Homo sapiens: one gene and its partner. The protein of the gene in region 1 binds, or shares a complex with, the protein of each later gene. Links are inferred from orthologs where the notes say so. Each region holds a gene or a part of one and is shown on either strand. Other genes may lie near its edges. The genes, in order: PFN2 and VASP.

What was found.
Region 2: the proteins of PFN2 (region 1) and VASP are in contact, whole or in part, in a crystal structure (PDB 2V8C), measured with the Mus musculus proteins. The link is inferred for Homo sapiens from one-to-one orthologs. Residues at the interface, in NP_062283.1 of Mus musculus: Gly3, Trp4, Ser6, Tyr7, Asn10, Cys13, Tyr30, Trp32, Met131, Tyr134, Ser138, Phe140; in NP_033525.2 of Mus musculus: Gly165, Pro166, Pro167, Pro168, Pro169, Pro170, Gly171, Pro172, Pro173, Pro174, Pro175, Pro176.

What each region holds. Positions count from the first base shown.
Region 1 is NC_000003.12:149,964,404-149,968,187, reverse strand, and holds the end of PFN2 (profilin-2), read left to right. Parts: intron 1-1,601; coding exon 1,602-1,699; 3' UTR 1,700-1,923; coding exon of another isoform or gene 1,924-2,021; 3' UTR 2,022-3,284; downstream 3,285-3,784. UniProt on the Homo sapiens protein: Binds to actin and affects the structure of the cytoskeleton. At high concentrations, profilin prevents the polymerization of actin, whereas it enhances it at low concentrations. By binding to PIP2, it inhibits the formation of IP3 and DG.
Region 2 is NC_000019.10:45,510,281-45,517,572, reverse strand, and holds part of VASP (vasodilator-stimulated phosphoprotein), read right to left. Parts: intron 1-7,292. UniProt on the Homo sapiens protein: Ena/VASP proteins are actin-associated proteins involved in a range of processes dependent on cytoskeleton remodeling and cell polarity such as axon guidance, lamellipodial and filopodial dynamics, platelet activation and cell migration.

The DNA of each region.
Region 1 (3,784 bases):
CTATGACCTGGCCTCTTAGATCCTGATTTTGTTTCTACGATAGAATATTCGTATGAACTCACTTTCAGCTTTATTAAACTTAAAAGTCTCTTAAACTGCTTGACATGTCAAATCATAATCCTGTGGTGTTTCAGATTGTTAAATTGTTCGAATCACTTGGTTATTTTAGTCCCTTTTGGTGTGTGTTTGACCTTTGGATCTCTTTTCTTTTTTTTCTTGCTTGTATTCTAACCATTTCACTACTCAGCATAAAGAAGGAAAAATTAACATCCGTTCATTTTTCAGTTAGGAACTTTGCTGGGGAAAAGATAATTAGATGAGGATTTTGGAGTAAGTTGTCCATTCACTGAAATATTTTCAAAGATTGTGTCTGAGACTTAGATTTGAAAAGTAGGAAATTACATTTAGTTTGTATACTTGGTCCAGAAATTCAGGTGTCTCCAGACTGTTGTCAGCATTATAGAAACTCTTAATTGCACTAAAGAAGTCTCCCTACTTTTTCAAAATAAACTTTTGAAATTGAGTTTTATTATGACATCTAATTGATTTACAAATACATTTTAATGTGTTAACGCATACGAATATTTTGTAAATAGAGAGTGCTTCTGTAGCCTCACATAGCTGACTTGGCACATCTAATTTTAATAACAGCTCTACCATGTGAGGGGAGTTGAAGCTGCTGTGAGTTATAATTAATGCTATGGCTCTACCAGCTCCCTGTGATTATCCTAAAAGTTACTCGTATTCTGGTGTGAGTTGATGTTTATAAGGATTTATAAGAAAATTAGATGACTTTGAAATAGTGACAAATCTCTTTAAACCTTAGCTGCACTATACGCTGAAAAGAAGCGTCAAACACAAGACAAAAAACCAGAATATTTTATACGATACAGCACTACTGACATCTAGTGGTAGTGAATATAAAATTTGACATATACATATATTTTGGGTTATACACCTTTGAATTGCATCATAGAAGAGCAATTAGAAATCGTAAACCTATTTTTTTAGACGCAATTAAAAACAAGGCTACTACGGTGAAGTTATCAGTAAGCAAACACCTTAAATAATTTAATTTGGCCTTTTCTGAATGATACTGAGTATGCTACTTAAAATTTGATCTTCATTTTCCTCTGGAAATAATAGATACATTTAGCCTCACTGGTAAAACTTAATAGTTTAAACTTATCAAGCATGTTAAAATTTGGGGAGAGTTTGTAAGTAAGTAACTCCCCAGGTTTATTAAGTTTATATTTTGGGGGCAAGTAATAACATGTACTTGACATCAGCCAGAATTTTTTTGCCCTAAAATAGAAGACAAATGGTCACTTTTTTTTTTTTCTGTAGCTAGTGTAAAGATAGTTGTATAGAACTTTTGCTTGCATTGATTGGCTTCCAAGATGCAGTCAAGTTTACTATTTTCTGTTTAGTATATTACTAGTTTGAAAGTTCTTTTTGGAAACCTACTTGACTTCAGTGCTTGGCAGTTCATGGAAAACTAACTTAATGTTAACTTATTAATCCGGGTTCTGTCTGCTAAAACTTATGTGACTTTCTTGATTAACACTTCTTTTGAAACACTTTTCTTCTTTCTCTTTCAGTCTTGGTCTTTGTAATGGGAAAAGAAGGGGTCCATGGAGGCGGATTGAATAAGAAGGCATACTCAATGGCAAAATACTTGAGAGACTCTGGGTTCTAGCTGCTAGGCAGACTGTTAAGTATTAGGGGAAAATTGCTCTTAAACTTTCCTAGCTATAAGCTTAAGTCTTAATTCTGGAAATTTTATTAGCAATGCAGGGTGATGGGGTATGAACCTGTGTCTCCTTTGTATCCCTCTGTTGGTGGGGAAAGGTGTCTTTCTTTCTGCCCTCCCCCCCCAAAATAATTCTGTTCACTTTTGTTTTGTTTCCTTGTGTACTCCAGCATTGGTTATAGTCATGGGAAAGGAAGGTGTCCACGGAGGCACACTTAACAAGAAAGCATATGAACTCGCTTTATACCTGAGGAGGTCTGATGTGTAAGCAGCCTCTCCCCATCTACCTAGCAACTGTCTTCATCAACAACCCTAATTATGGTCACAATGCTACCAAACTGTAGATGGTAGCTAATTTTTCTTTACCTATTTTCTAATGTCATGATTCCTGTTTGCCCAATGGATCATTTGTATGTTAACCACTGTATGTAACCAACCCTTATCTGGCAACATAATTGCAGCACAATAATGATTTGCATGATACCTTGAAATTGGGGGGAGGGGGCATGCCAAGTTGGGCATCACTTTGTCTTAGCAATTAATGGGATATTGATTACTAAAATAAGTTAATATTAAGCAAGGTGCCGGTTGTACAATCTCTGATCAGTGTCTTTTCAGCACTTTGAGCATTTACTTGGCTCATTTAGTCTTCCTTTTGTAGCGCATGGTTGGGAGGAAAAAGTGCATGCATCATTCCTTCACTCTTCTCTTTTTCCCGCCCCCCCTCCCTTCGCACATAGGCATTTGGTTTGCTTCCATCTTTTTTTATGCAGTGCCTGTTTTTTTTTAACCAATTAAAATCCCTTTTGTTGATGAGCTATTGAGAGCTGCAGTAGTTTGCTTTTAGTATTGTTGTTGCACTTGAGCAGAGACAAACCTTTATTCATAGTGTCTACAGGACATATGAAGAGTGCAATGGCAAAACAAGAGCAAAAAGCACTTCCTCCCATGACCTTACAGTAACCATACTGATTGAATCCCCAGGGACATTCCATCATTGCAATAGCTCAGATTTTTCTTCCTTTTTCTTTGCACACCAGCTCTACTCTTTAGTAAAATTGTAAAAGGCTGCCATTATGGACATTAGGTATCCCAACATAACCATCTGGAGTGTGTCCAGTTTGTTCTTCATAGGACCAATTTTTATTTGCAGCTTGAGTTTTTATATGAAGTTGCATTATTGTGGACTTGGCTGTCTTGTGATGAATTTTTTTCATATGTATTCTGTGCCATACTATTGTTAAAATGAACTGTTGCTATTGTGAGATGGATTTTAACTGACCTATTAAGGGTTTCTTTCGAATGGCACTACTTTAGGGACATTCTAGTATTTGCTTCTATTGTTTGGGCCTTGTGGATAATGTACAGATTTAAAAACAAATCTTGTTGCTGATTTGTCCATTTCTTTCCCTGCACTTTGTTACATCTGGGATACAGTCTAACTCATCTGATTTAATATGCATTTAAAAAAATGCCATAACTATTAAACACCTTGTTTACAGACAGATGAAATAAATTTATTCCAACCAAATACTCTAGGCTCCTGTTGTTTATATACATTGTTTATATAAACTGTTAAAAGTTGATTTTTGACAAAGTGGGAATACACAGAATAGGCCAAAGTCTGCTGCAAGCATAAAACTTCAGCAATATTAGGTGATGGCCTACTTCAAGTAATATTACAGATAAAATTAGTGCCTGGGAATTTCTTTTTAATGGACTCTGATCTGTTACACATAGCTTTTAGTCATTTCAGGCTCATCTTCAGGAGTATGTGAGAAGCAACTGACTTATCTGCTAGAAAATAAGTATTTTCCTCTTCTTGCTGGTTTCTAGATGTGAAATCTAATAGTAAAGGGAGTACCAAGAAGGGTTTCTGCACTATTGTGGATTTTTCTGTATTGAAATGTCATATGACTTTAGATTTGGAAGCTGTGTTGGCAGGCTGAAGTCAGCCAGCTGGGGCCCTCCCACATAAGAGCAGAAGACATTCCTTAGGCAGCATATAAGATAATTGGGATGCTTTTGCAT
Region 2 (7,292 bases), on another chromosome or scaffold:
AGGAAGAGAGTGACACAGAGGGAGGCAGGAGCCACGTGGACAGAAGGAGACGGGGGAGACAGATCAGGAGAGAAAATCAGATCAGGAGAGACAGGCAAACACACAAACGAGATGCAAGAGACAGACGCAGAGAGAGGTGGGAAAGGGAGAGTCGGGTTGACAAAGAGGAGAGACAGACTGAAGGCAGACAGACAGATGAACAGATGGGGGAGGGGTGGGGAAAAAGGATGGGCAGACAGGGGACCTGGAGGAAGAGGCAGACACAGAAAGAGATAAAGATGGTCTTGGCGTGGTGTCTCACACCTGTAATCCCAGCACTTTGGAGGTTGAGGCAGGAGGATCACTTGAGCCCAAGCATTTCAGAGCAGCCTGGGCAACATAGTGAGACCCCATCTCTAATAATAATAATTATTATTATTATTTTTATTTTTGTTTTTGAGACAGAGTCTTGCTCTCTGTCACCCAGGTTGGAATGTGGCCTCGACCTCCTGAGCTCAAGCGATCCTCCCACTTCAGCCTCCCAAGTAGCTGGGACTACAAGCATGCACCACCACACCCGACTAATCTTTTTTTTTTTTTTTTTTTTTTTGAGACAGAGTCTTACTCTGTCACCCGGGCTGTCCTCGGCTCACCGCAACCTCTGCCTCCCAGGTTCAAGCCATTCTCCGCCTCAGCCTCCTGAGTAGCTGGAATCACAGGCATGCACCACCAAGCCCAGCTAATTTTTTGTATTTTTAGTAGAGACGAGGTTTCACCATGTTGGCCAGACTGGTCTCGAACTCCTGGGCTCAAGTGATCCATTTGCCTCAGCCCCACAAAGTGCTGGGATTACAGGGGTGAGCCACCACACCCAGTCCACAAAAAAACTTTTTTAATGAAAAATAAAAAACACAACACAACAAAACTAATAAGAAGGAAAAGATAAAGATGGAGAGACAGGCTGAGGGGTGTAAGAGGCCGAGGCCAATGCCAGTGGGGGGATGCGGGTTAGCAGAGCAGAGGGCAGGAGGGAAGACAGAGGGGCCAGAAGGAGGCCAAGAGCCCAGAGCTGCACTAGGGACCAGCCCCTGCCTGACCTCAGTTTCCCTATCTCTACGCACCCCCCTCCACCACTGCCTGCTCAGGAAGAAGCTGAGGCTTGGGAGGGGAAGTGTGAGGCCTGCAGCAGGTTGGGGACCCATCCCAGACCTCTGAGCTCTTCCTCCAAAGGGACTTCCCGCTGCCCACCCCTCGCCTGGCTCCCCAGGGCACTAGCGGCCATTCCCCAGATACTCCCTGCTCTGTGTCTGGCCTATATTGGGTGGGGCTGGGGATGAAGACACAGCAGTGACCCAGACAGCTCCGGCACCACCCTCCTGGGGCTCACAGTCCAGTGTGGGAGACACAGCTGTCCCCAGACGGTACCAACCCAGGTTTAGGACCAAGGAGCCCAGGGTCTGGGGGTACCCTGAAGGAACGCCTGCCCCAGCCTGGAGAGTCAGGCAGGACTTCCTGGAAAAGGCAACGTCTGACTTAGCCTGGGTGGGAGGTGTCAGTAAACTGGTGCAGAGTTCAGGAGCTGATATCCCCAGACCTGGGTTCAAATCCCCACTGAGCCACCTACTTCATGTGACTCAGGCACATGACCTTCCCACTCAAGACCTCTTCTTGCCTGTGAACTGGGAAAATGACAGTCCCCACCTCCAGGGCAGTGGGGGAGGGGCACATGAATCTGGGCACCTAAAGGGCTTGGTACAGCCGGGTGTGGTGGCTCACGCCTGTAATTACAGCATGTTGGGAAGCTGAGGTGAATGGATCGCTTGAGCTCAGGTGTTCGAGACCAGCCTGGGCAACATGGTGAAATCCCGTCTCTACAAAAACGTACAAAGATTAGCTGGGCGTGGTGGTGTGCACCTGTAGTCTGAGCTACTCAGGAGGCTGACGCAGGAGAATCGCTTGAACCCAGGAGGTGGAGGCCGCAGTGAGCTGAGATCACGCCATTGCACTCCAGCCTGGGCGACAGAGTGAAACTCTGTTTCAAAAAAAAGAAAAAAAGCTAAGTGCTTGGTACAGCGTCCAGCACACGCCGAGAGCTCAGTAACTGTCAACATCCCTCTCATGGGCACCACTGGGGCCCGGGACAGCTACAACCCTCGGGACCCTCCCACCAGCCCCTCTGGGAGGTTCAATCCCCTCTCCCCCAGTGAGGAAACTCAGGCCTAGACAGGAACTCAAACAGGAAGTGACTTGCCCAAGGTCACACAGGGGAAGGGGAAGCACTGGTCTCCTCCCCACCCCACCCACACCAGGCTTTTTCCTGAAATGGGGAAGTTGGTGGTCAGAGGTTTCCGGGGACAGAAATTAGACACCCCCCGCAAAGCCTCTGTCTCTAGGAGGGCTGGGGGCTGGGTGTGACACTGATGCTGGGAAGTCAGGGCAGGGAAAGTCCCTAGGCAGACTCAGCTGTGGGTAGGGACCTGGGGTAGGGACCCTCAAATTTACCTAATTGTGCCATCTCCCTCTTACTAGGCATTTCAGGTGGATCAGGGGCCTTAAGCCCCTCCCCCAAAGTCACTCATTTTATTCTCACTGCAGCTTATCCAGAGAGCCACTCATTCTAATTTTGCAGGTGAGGACTAGAGGCCCAGAGAGGTTGAGTGACTTGCCCACAGTCACACAGCTACTGAGGAATAGAGTGAAGATGTGAATTCAGGCTTCCAAGCCTTAACCACCGGGAACTGTGTGGGCCCCACCCAAACACCAGGTGCCCTTTCCAGACAAACACAGCCTCGGGGGCTGTTTCTGGCTCCTGCTGCCCCTGGCAAGGCAGGGTTAAGGCCTCGGCCTCACCCACACCTGCCACCCACACCCAGGGCCGACTCTGGCCAGGAGCCCGGGGCTGCTGCTGCCCCGCCCTGGCTGCACTTTGCTCTCCCAGGCAGCCCTGCCCTACTGAGGCTCTGGACTGGCCGGAGAACAGGGCGCCTGCTGGGTGACCAAGGGGTGGTCTTGCCCCTCTCCAGGGAACACTATACCCATTGTAACAGAAGGATCCTGTTAAAACACGAGGTGGGGCGGGGAACGGTGGCTCATGCCTGTAATCCCAGCACTTTGAGAGGCCGAGGCGGGAGGATTGCTTTAGTCCAGAAGTTCAAGACCAGCCTGGGCAACACAGTGAGACCCCCCATCTCTAAAAAACAAAACAAACTAACAAAAACCTACAAGGTGGGATGTCTCTTCTTCTTCTTGAAGGCTCCAGGCTCCTACGGAATCAATGCCAAGTTCTCTCCAGGGCCTCCGTGATCTGTGTGTCCTCAGATCTCATTTCTTCCCGCTCCACTGTCCCTTGGGGACTCTGTTCCAGACCCTAGACCTCCTACCCCCATGCTGCTCTTCCCGCAGGCCAGACACATTCCTGCCTCGGGCCTGTGTGCTGCTTCTTCCTCAGGCCTAGCCTCTCCCCACTTTCAGGTCTCTCCTTAGATGTCACCCCTTCCAAGAAGCCGTCCCTCACTCCCTTAGCTGGAAACGCTTCTCTCCTTTTCATCCCCTGCTGCACATTTCATAGCAGTGACCCCTGCCCAACACAATATTTGTCTGTCTCCGCTGCCAAAAAGGCAGAAATTTGTGTCCCAGTTGTTCACTGCTGTGTCCCCAGAACCTAGAATGGCGTCCAACACATAGTAGGGACTCAATAGTTACGAAACATCTGTAAAAAAAGGCAAACTTTGGCCAGGGGAGGTGGCTCACGCCTGTAATCCCAGCACTTTGGGAGGCTGAGGCAGGAGGATCACTTGAGCCCAAGAGTTTGAGATTGGCTTGGGAAGGCTGGGTGTGGTGGCTTATGCCTGTAATCCCAGAACTTTGGGAGGCCAAAGCAGGTGGATCTCTTGAGGTCAAGAGTTCGACACCAGCCTGGCCAACATGGTGAAACCCTATGCCTACTAAAAATACAAAAATTAGCCAGGCATGGTGGCTCATGCCTGTAATCCCAGCTACCCAGGAGGCTGAGGCAGGGGAATCACTGAACCCAGGAGGCAGTTGCAGTGAGCCGATCTCAGACCACTGCACTCCAGTCTGGGAGACAGAGCGAGACTCTGTCTCAAAAAAAAAAAAAAAAAAAAAGGAGAGAGACTAGCTTGGGCAAGATGGTGACCTCCGTCTGTACAAAAAACTTTAAAATTAGCTGGGTGTGGTGGCGCTTGCCTGTAGTCCCAGCTACTCAGGAGGGTGAGGCAGGAGGATCACTTGAGTCCAAGAGGATGAGGCTGCAGTGAGCCTTGTTCAGGTCACTTGCACTCCAGCCTGGGCAACAGAGCAAGACTCCCTCACAGAGCAAGACTCCCTCACAAAAAAAGGCAAACTTTTACCTAGGACACCTAACATTTCTCAGTCAGCCTGGGTCCCAGACACTCTTCTTGGTGCTTGACACCAATTTCCCTGCTGCATGACTCTACAACCTCATGGGATAGGCTCTGACGCTCACCCTTTTGACAAGGGGGAATTGCAGGCACAGAGGAGTGAAGGCACTTGCCCCAGATCACACAGCAAGTAAGCAGAGGGGCTCATAGTTGAAACGAAGTTCCCACAAGTTCTTAACTTCATTTAAAGATGAAGAAGCAGAGCTAAATTGAAATTTTTAAAAGCCAAAGTACAAGGTAGTGTTGATCAGAGGCTTTACAAAACCAAAAAAAAGGTCGGGTGCGGTGGCTCATGCCTGTAATCCCAGCACTTTGGGAGGCCAAGGCAGGCGGATCACAAGGTCAGGAGTTTGAGACCAGTCTGGGCAACATAGCGAAACCCCGTCTCTACTAAAAATACAAAAAATTAGCCAGGCGTGGTGGCGGGCGCCTGTAATCCCAGCTACTTGGGAGGCTGAGGCAGGAGAATCACGTGAACCCAGGAGGCGGAGGTTGCAGTGAGCCAAGATCACGCCACTGCACCCCAGCCTGGGGGACAGAGCAAGACTCCGTCTCAAAAACAAAAACAAACAAACAAAAAAGGTAGGCTAGGCGCAGTGGCTCAAGCCTGTAATCCCAGCACTTTGGGAGGCCGAAGCAGGCGGACCTCTTGATGTCAGGAGTTTGAGACCAGCCTGACCAACATGGTGAAACCCTGTCTCTACTAAAAATAGAAAAATTTGCTGGGCGTGGTGGCGCGTGCCTGTAATTCCAGCTACTCAGGAGGTGAGGCAGGAGAATTGCTTGAACCTGGGAGGTGGAGGTTGCAGTGAGCTGAGATCGCGCCACTGCACTCCAGCCTGGGCGACAGAGCAAGACTCCATCTCAAAAAAAAAAACAGTGAGGAGCATATATAAATATATCTGCACTCAGAGTGGTGATATATGCAGAGACTGTTTCCCAAGACACTAACTGTGGCTGCCTCCATTGAGGGGAACTCAGGAACTGGGGAGGGAAGAAACAAATATTTTGTACCATTTATCTTTTGAGACAGAGTCTCTCACTCTGCACCCAGGCTGGCAGTGGTGTAATCTCAGCTTACTGCAGCCTCCACCTCCCAGGTTCAAGCAATTCTCCTGCCTCAGCCTCCCAGCCTCCACTTCCCGAGTTCAAGCGATTCTCCTGCCTCAGCCTTCTGAGTGTCCGGGATTACAAACGTGTGCCACCACGCCAGGCTAATGTTTCTATTTTCAGTAGAGATGGGGTTTGGGCGTTTGCCACATTGGCCAGGCTGGCCTCAAACTCCTGACCTCAGGTGATCTGCCTGCCTCGACCTCCCAAAGTGCTGGGATTACAGGCATAAGCCACCAGGCCCAGCCACCATTTCAATAATTTCAGTAAGTATTTCAAACTGCTTATTATTTGTTTTCTTATCATGGGTTGAAATTACCTATAAAAACCTAACTCACTACTTAAGTTCAATAAATAAAACTGTAAACTACACAAAAGCCAGAACGAAAATCCCATAGCCATAAAACGGGGGTGCGGGGGCTGTGAGATGGAAAGGAGTTCTGCCCATTTCCAGTGTGTTTTCCCGAAGTCTAGAACCCTCCATTGGACATGAGAACACTTTAATTTTCCAGCCAGCCCAGGACCCACTCCTCCCTGCAAGTCCCCACATTTTGGAAAACTCTAGCACATGGCGGATGAAAAGACGGTTCAAGTTGCCTCCTTGTTGTGTGGCTTTGCCTCTCTGAAACTCAGTTTCCAGCCCTGGAAACAATAACTCACTGGGTTCATTGTAAGGATTAAAAGAGATAATGGACAAAAAGCCCTAAACGCAGGAACTGTAACTTGGTACACGCTCCACATGAAGGAGAGAGCTTCCCATCACCAGAGGTAATCAAGCATGGTGAATCCGGTTTTCACAAAACTTGCAGTCTTACCCTTCCCTTCACTGTCCCCTGAACCCAAGACTTAGCCCATACCCTCCTTATACCATAAAACCTATGATACATATACACCACCCTTCCAAACGACAAATCTTCTTTTGTCGGGGATGGGGCTACTCTAGTCCCTTCCTCCTGGTGGGCCTCAGTTTCCCATAAGTGAATAGGAAGATAAATGTTGCAGCTTCGGTTTCATTTGGCTTATCTGAATTATCTTAAGAGTTTTCACAGTGAAAGCACGTTCCTTTTTTTTTTTCTTTTTCTTCATTAAGAACACGGAAAGCATGTTATCTCTATTTTTTTTTTTTTTTTGAGACAGGGTCTCACTTTGTCACCCAGGCTGGAGTGCAGTGGCAAGAATATGACTCATTGCGGCCTCAACCTCCCCAGCTCAAACGATCCTCTCGCCTCAGCCTCCAGAGTAGCTGGAACTACAGGCGCATGCCACCACACCCAGCTAATTTTTGTATATTTTGTAGAGACGGGGTTACACCATATTGCCCAGGCTGTTCTCAAACTCCTGGGCTCAAGCGATCCTTCTGCCTTGGCCTCCCAAAGTGTTAGGATTACAGGCATGAGCCCCGGCGCCTGGCCCTGTTTGAGTTTAATAGGCACCTTGCCTAACTTTCCTGTGCCTCAGTTTCCCCATCTATAAACTGAGTACCGGGGTGGGGAGGCCACAAGGTTGTAATAGTATCATTGTTCGAACTGCCATGAGGGGCCAGGTGTGGTGGCTGACGTCTGTAATAATAACACTTTAGGAGGTCGAGGCGGGTGGATCACCTGAGGTTAAGAGTTCGAGACCAGCCTGGCCATCACGGTGAAACCCTATCTCTACTAAAAATATAAAAATTAGCCGGGCATGGTGGCAGGCACCTGTAGTCCCAGCTACTCGGAAGGTTGAGGAGGAGAATCGCTTGAACCCAGGAGACGGAGGTTGCAGTGAGCCGAGATCATGCCATTT